Linked DNA regions of Homo sapiens: region 2 is linked to region 1. A link means that fine-mapping ties the variant in region 1 to the expression of a gene that starts in the linked region. Tissue or cell type: whole blood. Region 1 holds a variant in brackets; the other region holds the start of a gene. All regions are shown on one strand. Distances are between the middles of the regions.

Region 1 (8,448 bases):
CAATGGATTGGAACATACCTGCTAAAGCTTGAATGTTTGAATCCTCCAAAACTCATGTTGAAACTTAATTCCTAATGTAACAGTATTAAGAGGTGAGGCCTTTAAGGGGTGATTGTGCCATAAGGACTCTGCCCGCATGAATGGATTAACTCATTAATGGATTAATGGATTAATAGATTAATAGGTTATCATGGGAGTGGGTTAGTTATAACAAAAATGGGTCTGTTAAAGAAGCCAGGTCTGCAATGGCTCTCTCTCATGCACCCTCCTCATCATGTGATGCCCTGTGCCACCTCAGTACTCTGCAGAGAGCCCCCGCCAGCAAGAATGCCTTCAGCAAGATGCAGCCTCTTGGCCTTGGATGTCCCAGCCTCCATAACTGTAAGAAATCAATTCACTATCTTTATAAGTTACCCAGGCTCAGGTATTAAGTTATAGTAACAGAAAACTGACTAAGATAATATCCACATAGAAAAATCTTTGAGTTTATAGTTGAAAAAATTGGTCACCATTGGTGATTGCTAGGCAACCAATTCATTCCTCTGAAAAATTAGTAAATAAAAGGAAGGAATCAAACATTTATTCCACTTTTCCTATACGAATTGCATTCAGTGTGACCAAAGAGTAGTTAGGGAAAGTTCTTTTTAATAGAAAAATTCCAACAAATAAATGCACAAAGAAGAACAGAATTTTAAAATCACCATTTTGCAACCCTTAATGAAATAACTATTGCAGGCAATGGTGATCAATGTATACTAAAACCATTAAGTGAATAGTTGATGGAGAACCGATCAATCTTAGTATCACACAAGAACGGAATGTAATGGGAAGTATTCAGCACCATCTAGGAAGTATTCTTAAATAAATCTTGCAATGGTGGATGAATGTTGAGCAGAAAAGAAAGTCAAAAAATGTCTATGTTAAACTTTAAGCAACAATTCCTGACTTAGTTGACCACTAGCTAAGAGAATGACCCAATGGAATAGGAGACAGATTGAGAAATGTTACCATCACTTTCCTGCCCACCTTATGATTTCACCCTGAGCAGGCTTTCTCTCCACTATTGTCAGTTTGCTACTGTGCTAATTTTGAGTTGTCTTTTAGCCATTGACGTTGACCAGCAATGGAATCTAAGTCCAGGATACATGGAAAGTATACTGTCATGAAAAACGGAGTTTTTGAAAATGAGTACACTGCAAGCTGGGGAAAATCCTTTTTTTTTTTTTCTGTAAAAACTGAACCACCTGAGAAGGCATAGGTGTACTTATTTTTCTACACACTTAATTTGTTCAGTTTTAGAACTCAAGATCCTTTATTATTGTTAGTGTATTAAATTCATACCTTTCTGTTCTTACTGCCATTGCCTTTTTTTTTAAAATCACGTCATGCATTTGAAGGAGGGATTGTGGTGTAAACATCAGTCCATGGGTTGAGTCCAAAGACCTGGATTCTGATCCTGACTGTGCCCAGGCTTGTTGATGGTTGTGACCCCACAGTGAGATGCGGATTAAGGGTCAGATACTCCAAGGGAAGGGGCTGAAGAGACCAAACTTCCTGTGTGGACGGTCACGGAGTCCTCTGAGAGGGCTAAAGAAACACCCCCAGGCTGGTGCAGGAAGCCTGGGAGATCTTCCCTTTGGACCAGTGGATGGAGTCAGAGATCAGGATGGTTGCAGAGGAAAAGCTTCCCAGGGTGGAGGGGCAGGGGCTGGGAGAATGACCCCAAGGTCATGTAAAGAGAGGTGATGCTGGCTAAACAACTAAGTTTTGAGAGGCAGCGAGGCTCCTTCTAACCCTGGTATCACGGTCAATTTAATTTTATCTGTGCCTTGTGCTTCCTCTAATGAGGAAAGAGAGGAACGAAGGCTGTGCCCAGTTAGCTGTGTCAGTCAAGACAACCAGGAGTAGATTTTAGTCACCTTAAGGTCGAAAACTATGTTTGTTATTTGGAGCTTCTTTTCTTTAGTTCGCTTTATTTTCCCCTGGTTTATTTGAGAATTTTCTTTTGAAACTACCCATGAGACTCATTTCTACTAGGAACGTTAGAAAAGTAAAAAGACATTCTTTTCCTCTCCCCTTAGGCCGGGGAGGCAGAGGGCCCCTAGTGGCCAATGGTGGAACTGCAGCAGCCCAGTCCCAAGACCAGGTGGACCTGGCTGCTGGTTGGTGAACAAGAGCCTCTCAGAGAGCGAAAGGGCCTCCACCGACTCTGACAGCCTCGGTGAGGGGTGGGAAGGGGTGGGAAGGGGTGGGGAAGGACGGGGAGGGGTGGGGAGGGACGGGGAGGGGTGGGGAGGGACGGGGAGGGGTGGGGAGGGGAGGGGCGGGGAAGGGTGGGGGGGTGGGGGGTTTGGGGGAGAGGAAGGGACAGGAAGAAGTGGGAGGAGAAGAGGGAAGTGGGGAGAGAAAAGGACAGAAAAGAGAAGAAAAAAGGAGAAATGCCAATAGAGGCTTCTAAAACATTCAATATTTACTTCTAGCAAATAAATTTACTTCTGGCAAATAAATACTTTTAATAATCTCCAGTACAATGCAGTAATTTCTTTACGCAGAAAAATTAGAATCATTGAAGTATTTTGATATAAACAATAGTATTTTTACAGAAAAATAATACAGGATTACTGAAAAAATTGCTCCAATTTCCGTTTGAATGGTGGCCGTATGTCACACATAAGGTATAGTTTTAACAGAATTTAAAATGTTCCATCCCAGATGGTAATGCTTTTCCATATAATTGCGCTAACAACAAAAAATTAACTATTATCAGTGGGGTGGATGGGTAATGAGGCGTACATTTAAGGTTGAATGAGTAATATTTTCTCTCCTCAGTCCTGTCTGGGTGTCTTGCTGATAACGTTATTTGGAGATAAGATAAAAAGTTTAAATTTAAGCTCTCTTTGGAAAAGGGAATCCACATCAAACAGCTCTCCTGATCCCTGCCCTTTATTCCTCCCTGTTGATAAACCCTACAGTGAAGTGAACCTGTGACTCCCAAACCCTATTACCTATTAGAACTACACGTAGAAGCCGGGTGCGGTGGCTCTCGCCTGTAATCCCAGCACTTTGGAATGCCGAGGCGGGCGGATCACCTGAGCTCAGGAGTTGAAGACCAGCCTGACAATATGGCGAAACTCCGTCCCTACTAAAAATACAAAATTAGCGGGGCATGGTGGCATGCGCCTGTAGTCCCAGCTACTTGGGAGGCTGAGGCAGGAGAATCACTTGAACCTGGGAGGCGGAGGTTGCAGTGAGCCGAGATTGTGCCATTGCACTCCAGCCTGGGCAACAAGAGAGACTCAAAAAATAAAAATAAAAAAACATGTAGAGGCCGGGCGCAGTGGCTCACGCCTGTAATCCCAGCACTTTGCGAGTGCGAGGCCACGACGGGTGGATCACTTGAGGTCAGGAGTTCGAGACCAGCCTGGCCAACATGGTGAAAACCTGTCTCTACTAAAGATACAAAAACTAGTTGGGTGTGGTGGTGGGAGCCTATAATCCTAGCTACTCAGAAGGCTGAGGCAAGAGAATTGCTTGAAACTGGGAGGCTAGAGGTTGCAGTGAGCCGAGATCAAACCACTGCACGTTAGCCTGGGCGACAGAGCGAGACTCAATCTCAAAAAAACCATACCAAACAAAACAACTACATGTAGAGCTTTGAAACTATCCATATTCCTGGTTCTCTTCCAACACCTCTAGATGGATGTTTCCGGAGGTGAATTGTCCTCAGATTAGCATTTGGAACTAGGACGCTGCACTCTCCTACACCGTTAATAAAAGTATATATTTGCATGAACATGACAATTGGCAATATCTATTAAATTACAACAAATATGTACCCTTCGACCCAGAAATTCTAATCCTGGGACTCTATCCCATAGAAATAAAAGCACCAGGGCCGGGCGCGGTGGCTCATGCCTGTAATCCCAGCACTTTGGGAGGCCGAGGCGGGTGGATCACGAGGTCAGGAGATCGAGACCATCCTGGCTAACACGGTGAAACCTCGTCTCTACTAAAAATACAAAAAAAATTAGCTGGGCGTGGTGGCGGGCGCCTGTAGTCCTCAGGAGGCTGAGGCAGGAGAATGGCGCGAACCTGGGAGGCGGAGCTTGCAGTGAGCCGAGATTGCGCCACTGCACTCCAGCCTGGGCTACAGAGCGAGACCCCGTCTCAAAAAACAAAAACAACCAAAAAAATAATAATAAAAA[T/TA]AAAAAAAAAAGAAAGAAAAGCACCAGTACAGAAAAATATATGAGACCTGGCACGGTGGCTCACACCTGTAATCCCAGCACTTTGGGAGGCCAAGGCAGGTGGGTCACTTGAGATCAGGAGTTCGAGACCAGCCTGGGCAACATAGTGAAACCTCATTTCTATCAAAAATACAAAAATTAGCCAGGTGTGGTAGTGCATGCCTGTGGTCCAGCTACTTGGGAGGCTGAGGTGGGAGAATGGCTTGAGCCTGGGAGGTCGAGGCTGCAGTGAGCCGTAAATGTCCATCTATAGAGGAAAGATTGAATAAACTGTAGAATAACCACACAGTAGATTGTATTATTAAACAAGAAAGAGTTGAAGTGATATCAATTGACCTGGAAGGATTTTTACAATGTATATTGTTAAGAAAGTACAGCAATAACTTAAGACATGTCTTTTGTAAGAGTATATAAGTGTATCAAACTATGTATTGTAAGAAATATAGGAAACAAATAATGGCCAATTTCTCAATACTTGTGCTATTGTATGATTGTGTGACCATGAAGAAATGTATGGGAAAATACACACTAGACTCTAATTGTTTCTGTTTATGGGGAGGTGTGGGCACAAAGAGAGGGCAAGGATGTTGTAAGGAAAAGAGTACCAAGACTATAGAAACATAATGATGTGTGTATGAAATAAAAATATGTAAATATGATATATTTACATATAATATATACAATATATAGAATATATTAAAATAATGAGACTGTGACATAGTATAATATAATAGCAATTTAAAATGTGGACTATAAATTCTACCTCATATTGTGGTAAATATGTAAAAATTAAGTGTGCAAATGGAAAGTTCTAGAAGGTGACAAAGACGAGTAAAAATTCATTTCATTTTTTATGATACTAAGAGTAAATTTCTTTTTAGATGTGTTACTTAATACGGAATCTGTAATTATGTAGAGTGTTTTGCTTTCGATTTTTGTCTGAAGAGAAAGGAAAAAAGAAACTGCTGCTCTGGACTCTAGTGGGGAAGCATTACTTCCCTTATATGGTGTAGTGAAAAGAACTCAGATGTTCCAGCCAGATGCTCTTGAGCTTGAGTTTTGATTCTATTACTTGTGATATTAAGTAAGATATTTGACCCCTCTAAGCTCTGGTTTCTCCAGCTCTAAAATAGGGATGGTAATTGTACCTACCTCATCGGTAAAGGGCTTGCTACAGCCCCTGCCATGCAGCAGACTCCTAAGAAAAGTTATCTATTTGTGGTAGATTAATATATTGTGGTGTTTATATATATAGATAGATAGATATTTGTATATATATTTATATATCTATATATCTATATATACATCTATATATCTATATGTGTGTGTGTGTGTATATATATATATATATATATATAGGTTTTACTGCTGTGGAATTATCCAAAAGAAAAAAAAAAGAGCCATCTGTATTGTGCTCTCAGTATTTTCTCTCCTTTTTTCCAAAAGGCAAGCAAGGTTTTGTACTCCTAAGTTTTGAGGGAGATTTGTATTGTTTGGTGGGAGAGGGTGAGGAGAGGAGAGGTGGGACACAGGCAAAATCAGAGACACTGAAAGTTCTTCACAATGAGAAGGGAAAACCATGGCTGGCAGAGACTTTCCTCCTGCCTCTCCTAAATCCTGGAGAGAGGGCAGGACCTCAGAGGAGGAATGGAAACTCCCAGGAGGCTGGGCACAGGCCGCGGGGCTTCATAGGTAGGAGTTGTGGGCCTCTCAGAGGTGAACATGTAGGCCGAGAGCAGAAAGGCCTCCTCGAGCATTTTTCTCCCCGAAAATCTAGATTCATCCCTAGAACCTTTGCATTATCCTAAGGGTAGGGGTGGACAGGGATGGTGTGAGGTATCCTTATTCTATTTGTCTGGGATTTGAGTTTGAATTTAATCTGATTTAAAGGAAATACATTAAAAGGCTGGGTGGTGCAGCTCATGCCTGTAATCCCAGCACTTTGGGAGGCCCAGGTGAAAAGATCGCTTGAATCCAGGGGTTCAAGACAAGCCTGGGCCACATAGGGAGACCTTGTCTCTACAAAAAATTAAAAAATTAGCCAGGCATAGTGGTGTATGTCTGTTGTCCCAGACACCTGGGAGGTGGGAGGATGGCTTGAGCCTGAGAGGTCAAGGCTGCAGTGAGCTGTGATCATACCACTGCACTATAGCCTAGGTGATGGAGTAAGACCCTGTCTCACTAGGAAGAAAGGAAGGAAGGAGAGGAGGAAGTAAGAAATACATAGGAATATTTTATGTGGTCGCAAATACCTGTGACATTTTAATTCTCTTTCTTATTCATTTGATTGCTGTGTGATACTGGGGGAACAGGGCTATTTAACTCTCTCAGCCTCAGCTTCCTCATCTGTTGAATGGGCAGTAATAACACACAGCTCACAAAGCTGTGACCTGTGAAGATTTAATGAGTGTGTGTCTGTAACAGTGTCTATGACTGTCTATAGCTGACCATTGGTATGGTCCCTCTTCTCATTCCCTTGGGCAGTCCTAGTTCTTGGCCTCTGCACATGATGCTTCAGCACCTGGAATAGTTGTTACCACCTCTGCTATTTGAATCCAACTTCGTCCTTGAAGTCCTAACACAAGCACTGTCCATTTTCTTCCTTTCCTGACCACTAGGCAATGTTCCTTTCTTTGAACTCCTGAAGCATTTGCCTTGCTCATTCCTTGTTCACACACCTGACATTTCTGAAGCACCTTCTGAGTGGCAGGCACTGTGACGGAAATAGACAAAGTCTTTGCCCTCATGGAGCTCACATAAGCAGATTGTATCTGTCTTTTTATTTTATTTTTTATTTATTTATGTATTTTCTTTTTTTGAGGTGGAGTCTCATTCTGTCGCCCAGGCTGGAGTGCAGTGGCACAATCTTCTCTCACTGCAACCTCTGCCTCTTGGGTTCAAGAGATTCTCCTGCCTCGGCCTCCTGAGTAGCTGGGATTACAGGTGAGGGCCACCATGCCTGGCTAATTATTATTAATTTTTTTTGTATTTTTAGTAGAGATGGAGTTTCACCATGTTGCCCAGGCTGGTCTCAACTCCTGACCTCAGGTGATCTGCCCACCTCGGCCTCCCAAAGTTCTGAGATTACAGGCGTGAGCCACTGTACCCGGCCCCATGCCTTTTTATACATAAATGTATCCTTTCCCAAATACACGAGCTGCTTCCTAAGGGGAGAAATGTCTTTTACCTCTATTATCTAGAGCAGCGCCTAGAATGCAGAAGATATGTAGTAGATGTTCTCTTGGATAAGATGAGTCTTTAATCAAAATATTCCCCCTTCTGCTTACTTACAGGCCTACAACCCCCCTTATTTACTGCAATTAACTCTTAACGTGGCTGTTCCTGGATGTTACAATCCATATCTTCTGTCTCCATCCCCAGTGCAGCACAACCAGACTCATACATGTTGGAATACACAGACTAATACAATCTTTGCAAGATTGCTGATTGAGGATTCCAGGATGAAGTTCACGTCCTGGTCCCTCATTCTTTACCTACTGTCACCTGAGGTGACCCCAGAGTTACTCTTGTATTTTTAGCACAACAAAGAGCTGAAATCACTAGGTATTTCTAGAGCTCTGTGTCAGAGGTCTAGTAATGGTGTATCTTTTCCACATCTGCAATAATTGAGTTCCCCACTCAGAAAACAGAGCTGCATGTTTGAATACTTTTAACCATTATAATAACTGATATTTGTACAGCAATTAATGGTTTATAGAAGGACTTCACAGGTATGAGCAAGCCAAGGCAAGTAATATGCAAGTAATATCATTACTGTTACTTTTACTCTTATGTTACGTAAACAACTTTTTAAAAAATTACCTGAAGTTGAACAGTCACGATGCAACAGATCAGGAAACTAACAAATCTACTGACTGCAAATCTTGTATTCTTCACATTATACCACGCGGTGGTTTTTATTGTTGTCTTTTGTTTTTTTTTTTAATATAACTTCCCCTGAAGTCAGCCTATGCTAGCCCGCAAAGATTTTATTAGTGTTTGGGGAGGAAAGAGTCTTATACACTCAGTCACATCTTAACAAACCCAGTTATGGCCAAACTTAAGTAACCACCCTTGGTTTCAAACAACCTGCCATTTATTTAGGGAGGAACCACTACAACTCCCAGATGGTTTAACATCAGATGTGCTTTTCAGGAGAAAAAAAAAAAAAGATATTTCTTAGGGGAGTAATTAATAGGAAAGA
Region 2 (8,448 bases), 31 kb after region 1:
ACTAGGGAAGCTGAAGTGGGAGGATTGCGGGAGCCAAGGGAGTCAAGGCTGCAGAGAGCTATGACCATGCCTCTGCACTTCAGCCTGGGCAATAGAGCTAGACCCTGTCTGTTAAAAAAAAAACAAAACAAAACCCAAAAAACCTAAAAATAGAAGTACCCTATGATCCAGCAGTCCTACTGCTAGGAATATACTCAAAAGAAAGGAAATCAGTATATTGAAGAGATACCTGCACTCCCGTGTTTGCTGCAGCACTATTCACAATAGCCAAGATTTGGAAGCAACTGGAGTGTACACTAACAGACGAATGGATAAAGAAAATGTAGTGCAGGCTGGGCGTGGTGGCTCACGCCTGTAATCCCAGTACTTTGGGAGGCCGAGGCAGGTGGATCACGAGGTCAGGAGCTTGAGACCAGCCTGGCCAAGATGGTGAAACCCCGTCTCTACTAAAAATACAAAAATTAGCTGGGCATGGTGGCATGAACCTGTAATCCCAGCTACTCGGGAGGCTGAGGCAGGAGAATCGCTTGAACCCAGGAGGCGGAGGTTGCAGTGAGCTGAGATTGCGCCACTGCACCACTCCAGCCTGGGCGACAGAGCTAGACTCTGTCTCAAAAAAAAAAAAAAAAAAGAAAGAAAATGTGGTACATACATGCAATGAAGGACTATTTGGCCACAAAAAAGAATGAGATCCTGTCATTTGCAACAACATGGATGGAACTGGAGGACACTATGTTAAGTGAAATAAGCCAGGCACAGAAAAACAAACTTTTCATGTTCTCTCTCATTTATGGGAGCTAAAAATTAAAACAATTGAACTCATGGAGATAGAGAGTAAAATGATGGTTACCAGAGGCTAGGAAGGGTAGTGGAGAGGGGCAGAAATGGTTAATGGGTACAAAAATATAGTTAGACAGAATGAATAAAATCTAGTATTTGATAGCACAATAGGGTGACTACAGGCAACAATAACTTATTGTACACATGTAATCCCAGCACTCTGGGAGGCCGAGGCGGGTGGATCACAAGGTCAGGAGTTCGATACCAGCCTGACCAACATGGTGAAACCCTGTCTCTACTAAAAATACAAAAGTTAGCCGGCCATGGTGGTGCGTGCCTGTAATCCCAGCTACTCAGGAGGCTGAGGCAGGAGAATCGCTTGAACCCAGGAGGCAGAGGTTGCAGTGAGCTGAGATCGCACCATTGCACTCCAGCCTGGGTAACAGAGCGAGACTCCATCTCAAAAAAAAAAAATTACTAAAAGATTATAACTGGAATGTTTGCAACACAAAAATATAATAAATGTCTAAGGTGATGGATATCCCATTTGCCCTGATGTGATTGTTACACATTGCATGCCTCTATCAAAATATCTCATATACCCCATAAATATGTCTATTATGTACCATAAAAATTAAAAATAAAAAAATTTTTAAATAAAAAGAAATTTTAGATAGAAAACAAAACCTAATCTTGGCCAAAGGAACCTCAGAAAAACCTTAAAAACTGAATTCCAGGCCAAGATGGGAAGAGAGGTTAGACACACCTCTATACCTTCTCCCTTTTAAAGTTTAGGCACAACTGACCAACATTAAGGTTAAACTAGAGATCATAAGACTGACAAAACACTCTGTGGCAATAAGATACCATATTATAAACAAGACCTAGGCTGGGCGCAGTGGCTCACGCCTGTAATCCCAGCACTTTGGGAGGCTGAGGCAGGCGGATCACGAGGTCAGGAGCTCGAGACCAGCTTGGCCAATATGGTGAAACCCCATCTCTACTAAAAATACAAAAATTAGCTGGCCGAGATGGCGCGTGCCTGTAGTCCCAGCTACTTGGGAGGCTGAGGCAGAAGAATCGCTTGAACTGGGGAGGTGGAGGTTGCAGTGAGCTGAGATCACGTCACTACACTCCAGCCTGGGTGACAGAGCGAGACTCCGTCTCAAAAAAAAAAATAAATACAAATAAACAAGACCTGCGAGCCAGGCGCGGTGGCTCACGCCTGTAATCCCAGCACTTTGGGAGGCCGAGGCAGGTGGATCATGAGGTCAGGAGTTCAAGACCAGCCTGACCAACATGATGAAACCCCGTCTCTACTAAAAATACAAACATTAGCCGGGCATGGTGTTGCATGCCTGAAATCCCAGCTACTTGGGAGGCTGAGGCAGGAGAATCGCTTGAACCTAGGAGGTGGAAGTTGCAGTGAACCGAGATGGGGCCTCTGCACTCCAGCCTGGGCGACAGAGCAAGACTCTGTCTCAAAACAAAACAAAACAAAACAAAACAAAAAAACTATGGCCATGCAAGGCAAGGATTAAGTCATGCCCTACAAACCATAAAATGTCGTTAAATGGTTTTTTATGTGCAATGGTATAATGTGCCTTACTTTCCAACCTGACTGGTGTAGAATCACATGACAGATAGCAGACTCCCTTTTCTTAAGCATTCCTTTCTACTGACTTCAAGTCTTTAGACAAAGCTTAACACTGTTTTTTGTTTGTTTGTTTGTTTGTTTTTGAGACAAGGTCTTACTCTGTCACCCAGGCTGGAGTGCAGTGGCACGATCTCGGCTCACTGCAACCTCTGCCTCTCAGGTTCAAGTGATTCTCCCACCTCAGCCTCCCTAGTAGCTGGGGTTACAGGCATCCACCACCGTGCTTGGCTAAGTTTTGTATTTTTAGTAGACACAGGTTTTCACAATATTGGCCAGGCTGGTCTTGAACTCCCGACCTCAGGTGGTCCACCCACCTTGGCCTCCCAAAGTGCTGGGATTACAGTCTTGAGCCACTGCACCTGGCCTGTGTTTTTATTTGTTTTTGAGACAGGGTCTCGCTCACCCAGGCATGAGTGCTGTGGCATGATCATGGCTCAATGCAGCCTCTGAGGCTCAAGAGATCCTCCCACCACAGCCTCTCAAGTGGCCTGGGACTACAGGCAGATACCATCATACACAGCTAATTAACACGGTTTGTAGAGATGAGGGCTTACTCTGGTGCCCACGCTGGTCTCAAATTCCTGGACTCAAGCAATCCTCTCACCTAGGCCTCCCAAGATGCTGGGATTATAGGCAGGAGCCACCTCGCCTGACTAAAGCTTAAATCTTTCAACAGATTGCCGATCAGAAAATCTTTGAATCCACCTATGATCTGTAAGCCTCTCCTTCAAGACATCCCACTTCCTTAGCCTGAACCAATGTATATCTTCCATATATTGACTTATTTTACCTGCAATTCCCAACTCCCTAAAATGTATAAAACAAAGAGTAATGCCACCGCTTCAGATGCTCTTTGTTAGGACCTCTTGGGACTATTCCCTGGGCCATGGTCACTCATATTGGTTCAGAATAAATCTCTTTAAAACCTTTTACAGAATTTGTTTTTTTTCCATTAACAAAATCATCTCATTTTGAGGCAACTGAAGCCTAAAATCGTTAGAGAAGCGCTTTGCCCAAGGATTCACACAATAGTGTTGCAAATGGAGATTTAGCACTAAGTCAGCTGTGTTGTTTTCACTATACTGGGTGCCTACATAGCAACTAGACCATGGAAAGTCTTCGCATATCTACGAGGATGCAATTTTTGATAGGAGTTGGTCATAGTCAAGAGTGGCTAGATGGCCACTTCTAAATCTTGTTGGTGCTGGATTTCCTAAACTCTGTGGGATTACTTCTTTTTTTGACCTCAAAACAGAAAAATTTCCTCTGTAACACGATTCACTAACACATGAGGTAATCACACTGCTTTGAGGTCTGTAAGGATCAAGTTGGAACCGTCATCCCCTTCCCTGGCAGTCCCTAAAATCCTTCGAGATGACGTCACCCAACGAGTTCAAGAGGGCGGTGCGTTCCTAACCACACCTTCTGCAACCCAAGTGCCGCCCCTCTGACTTTCTCCTTTTTCCTTTTTTCCGGAACGCCGGAACGTAAGACGTGGGTCACGCAACAAGAGCAACTAGTCCCGGAAGCAAAAAGCAAAGAGGCGGAGAAGAAGACGGGAAGCAGAGCCCGCGTCCGGGTCGGCCGGCAGGGGGCGGGGCCGGGCATGGTAACGGCTCGGAAGCCTAGGAGGCTGGGCCGGAGGGAGGCGGAGGAACCGGTGTTCGCCGCCGCCGCTGCTTCAGCTTATTCCTTGTGGCCTCTGCGGGTCCTGCCTCAGCCATGATGATCCACGGCTTCCAGAGCAGCCACCGGGATTTCTGCTTCGGGCCCTGGAAGCTGACGGCGTCCAAGACCCACATCATGAAGTCGGCGGATGTGGAGAAGTGAGGCTTCGGGGCACGGGGTCTGGGCGCTGGCCGGTTGCTGGCCCAGGGCGGGAGGCAGGGCGAACTCTGTGCAGCCCCTCCCCTTTTCCCTGAGGCGGAGGTTCGGTCCCTCCGGACCGGACCTTTGATTGACAACTTCGATAAATAATCCAGTCACACTTCCGGGCCCTTTGGTTGGGGATCGCCAGGCGCTGCTTTCGTCAACTGTCAATCCGCCTGGGTTTGAGTAGAGTGTGACTGTTCTGGTGGACTTTCCCCTCACCAAACGTCTCCTCCTGCCTCAGCCTGCACCACCTTTCTTTCTGGGTGGCTGTTGCCTGTTTTCTTAGGGGTTAATGACGGGGATGATTTATAAGTTTGGTTTCTGTCACGTCAGGTGCTGTGCCCGGCGCTTGAGATAGGAAATGTAAAAGACAACGTGCGCCTCAATTCACAGTCTCGTGAGAGAGACAGACAATTATATTACAGCGTGAATAAATGTAATGAAGATGTATACACGGAGTGATGTGAGGTCTTTTAGGGGCTCGAACCATCTGGGAAATTGGGATGCCTGAACTGAATCTTTATAAAACCGTTGCGGGGGGCGGTGGATAGGTACATGCCATCAGGTCAGGCAGAGTGAGTTGTGATGCGTTTTTGATGCCTGGGCTGAATCTTGACAAAATTTAGGGGAATCAGGGGACGCATGTAAAGCTGGGGGCTCAGGGAGAGTGAAAGCTGTGATGTGTTTAAAGAGCTGTGTCCGTGTGATTGGAGCGTGAGGTACCATAGGGGGTGTTGTGAGAGATGAGAGGTAGGCCCCAGGGGAATCAAGATACTGAGGGAATTTTTATGCCTGGCTAAGGAGTTTTCAATTTTATCTGACAACCACTGGGTGTAATTTTATCCAAAGGAGCTGCATTATCAGATGTACGCTCTGAAAGATTTCTCTGGAGGCCATGTTGAGGCTGGATTGCAGGTCCGCAGGGATGGGAAGGAGACCAGTTAGTAAGAGAAAAGATAGGTTTTAGAAGATTAAGTCCCTGGGATGGCCAGCTGATGGGAGGAGAAATAAAAAAGGAAGAGTCTATGCTGATGACAAGATCTCTGGCTTGGATTTTTGCATGTATCGTATGCCTTTGAACAAGATGAGAAGCACAGGAGGAGGAGAAGCAGATGGGGGCAGGGTGTTGGTTAGAGGATGAGTTTAGTTTATTGAAATGTGAGGTGGGTATAGGTCATAAAGTGAAGATGTGTAGTAGGCATTTAGATATATTTATCTTGGAGCTCAAAAAAGATAACGTCTGTGGGTTTAAGTTTGGGAATTATCTGCTTATATTTGGTACCTGGAGCTTTGGGAATGAATTAAGGTATCTAGAAGTCATCCAGAGGAAAAGGTCATAAAATAGAACCCTAAGTGAGTACTTGCATTTTAAGATTTGAGCAGAGGGAGTGACCAGGGAAGAGAGGAAAGTAATGAAACGATGTTTGCTTCCTAATTCAAGAAAATAAGTGGTAATATTCTAGTAGACTCACTGAAAAAAATTAGGAAAATACAGAAAAGAAAGGAAAAAAATTTCCCTTCATCCCACCAGAAATTGAATTACTTTTTTGAGTTTTTCCTCTCTATATCTTTCTTTTCTTTTTTTTTTATAACTTTTTTTTTTTTTTTGTATTTTTAGTAGAGACGGAGTTTCTGCATTTTGCTCAGGCTGGTCTCGAACTCCTGACCTCAGGTGATCTGTCCGCCTTGGCCCCCCAAAGTGCCGGGATTACAGGCATGAGCCACTGCGCCCAGCCTTGTATAACTTTTATTTATTTTTTATTTTGTTTTTTTGAGACAGAGACTCACTCTGTCGCCCAGGCTGGAGTGCAGTGGCACAGTCTCAGCTCACTGCAGCCTCCGCCTTCCAGGTTCAAGTGATTCTCCTGCCTTAGACTCCCTGGTAGCTGAGACTACAGGCGCGTGCCACCACGCCTGGCTAATTTTTGTATTTTTATTTATTTATTTATTTTTAATTTTCTTTTCTTTTCTTTTTTTCTTATTCTTTCTTTCTATTTTTATTTTGAGATGGAGTTTCACTTGTTGCCCAGGCTGGAGTGCAATGGCGCCATCTCGGCTCACTGTAACCTCCACCTCCTGGGTTCAAGCGATTCTCCTGCCCAGCCTCCCAAGTAGCTGGGATTACAGGCATGCATCACCACGCCCAGCTAATTTTGTATTTTTAGTAGAGATGGGGTTTCACCATGTTGGTCAGGCTGGTCTTGAGCTCCTGACCTCAGATGATCCACCTGCCCTCGGCCTCCCAAAGTGCTGGGATTACAGGCATAAGCCACCGCACCCGGCCTCCTCTCCATATAACTTTCTGTGACAAATTGCCGATTGGTGCAAAAGTAATTGCGGTTTTTAATTGCAAAACCGCAATTACTTTTGCACCAACATAATACAATATATAATTATATTATATATAAAGCAGTCAGCTTCAAACTGGGGCCCCCATGTAATTTACTTACAGATTCTCTAAGCGATGGCTGTATACATGGAGAGTTTTAAGGGAATAAAATTCCATATCTACGATCTCCTTATGTATTATTTTAAAAACAAATTTGCCTGAGGCCGGGTGCGGTGACTCACTCCTGTAATCCCAGCACTTTGGGAGGCTGAGGCAGGCGGATCACCTGAGGTCAGGAGTTCAAGACCTGCCTGGACAACATGGTGTAACCCCGCCTCTACTAGAAATACAAAAAAAATTATCTGGGGGTGGTGGTGCAGGCCTGTAATCCCAGCTACTCTGAAGGCTGAGGCACGAGAATCACTTGAACTTGGGAGGTAGAGGTTGCAGTACGCTGAGATCGTGCCACTGTGCTCCAGCCTGGATGACAGAGTAAGACTCCGTCCCCCACCCTCCGCCAAAAAAAAAAAAATGCCTTTTTTTATATGACAAAAGGAAGACTTACCCTCACCAATCCCAAATTTTTCTGTGATGCATTATCATAGATTGTAAAAACCACTAAGGTGCTAAATAAATTGGTTGGGTAAAATATTGGATTAAAGAAGCTCTTCTAATGAATATTTAAGGCACCTTAAAACCACAGGAGCTTCCTGTCTTCTCTCCTTGTAACTAGTTATACCTGTTTTTAAGTGGGAAGCTTGATGATGTTAGAAATAGGGCATTTTCAGGCCGGGCGCGGTGACTCACGCCTGTAATCCCAGCATTTTGGGAGACCGAGGCAGGTGGATCACCTGAGGTCAGGAGTTCGAGACCAGCCTGGCCAACATGGTGAAACCCTGTTTCTACTAAAAATACAAAAATTAGCCGGGCATGGTGGCACGTGCCTGTAATCCCAGCTCCTAGGAAGGCTGAAACAGGAGGATTGCTTGAATCTGGGAGGCGGAAGTTGCAGTGAGCCAAGATCGTGCCATTGCACTCCAACCTGGGCAACAGAGCGAGACTCCGTCTCAAAAAAAAAAGAGGGCATTTTGGCCTATGTTTAAGAAACTCTATATTTAGAACACTGAAGGACTGTAAATTAGTAACAGTGATTCTTTTACATATATGAGTGGAATATTTTATAGGACTGCCACATTTTTCCAGATATATTGGTTAGAATCCACAGACTCACATATTATTTCACATTTGGTATGCATTATTCAAGTTAAAACTTATTTTATGGAATCTTATGGAATATATATTCCAATTACAGTTTATTGTATCTAATCTTTTAAGTATTTAATATTTTCTATCTCCTAATAACAAAGAATAAATTTTACTTAAAATTATGATGAAAGTTAACATTGTTAGTCCTGAAGACCATTGTTAACATTGTGCAGTCCTGAAGACCTGCACCTCAAAGTTAGATCACTGATATGTGCACACAGAAATACACGTTTAGATGTAATAAATATACAATGTGTGTCCAGTTTTTTTCTTACTATTTTATCATAAGCATTTTTTCATATTATTATAGTCTCTCTTTAAACATTTGTAATGGTTCCATAATATTTCATCATATGGATATACTTTGGTTTGCATAATCATTTGTTGCTTTATAATGAAACATTCAGAGTATTTCTTTTTCATGATTATAAGTAAAGCCATTATAAGTATTAATGTGTATAATATTTTTCTGTACTTGGAATTATTCTTTAGTACAGGTATTCTAAAACTGATACTTTGGGTCATAAGTGTGTAAATTATGTTA

Evidence for each region. PIP is the estimated chance that this variant, and not a neighbour inherited with it, causes the effect.
Region 2: it holds the start of TIPRL, and the variant in region 1 is fine-mapped to the expression of TIPRL in whole blood (INTERVAL, PIP above 0.99).

The regions. Positions count from the first base shown.
Region 1 is chr1:168,143,880-168,152,327 of GRCh38, forward strand. No RefSeq gene overlaps it. Among named protein-coding and RNA genes, the nearest start is that of GPR161, 11 kb to the left of the region's middle. The variant T/TA (reference allele first, on the strand shown) is at 4,206.
Region 2 is chr1:168,174,919-168,183,366 of GRCh38, forward strand. It overlaps TIPRL (TOR signaling pathway regulator), which reads left to right and starts at 4,044. Exons shown (of 7, transcript NM_152902.5): 1 at 4,044-4,263. The coding sequence starts at 4,160. RefSeq lists enhancers at 3,667-4,168, 4,156-4,275.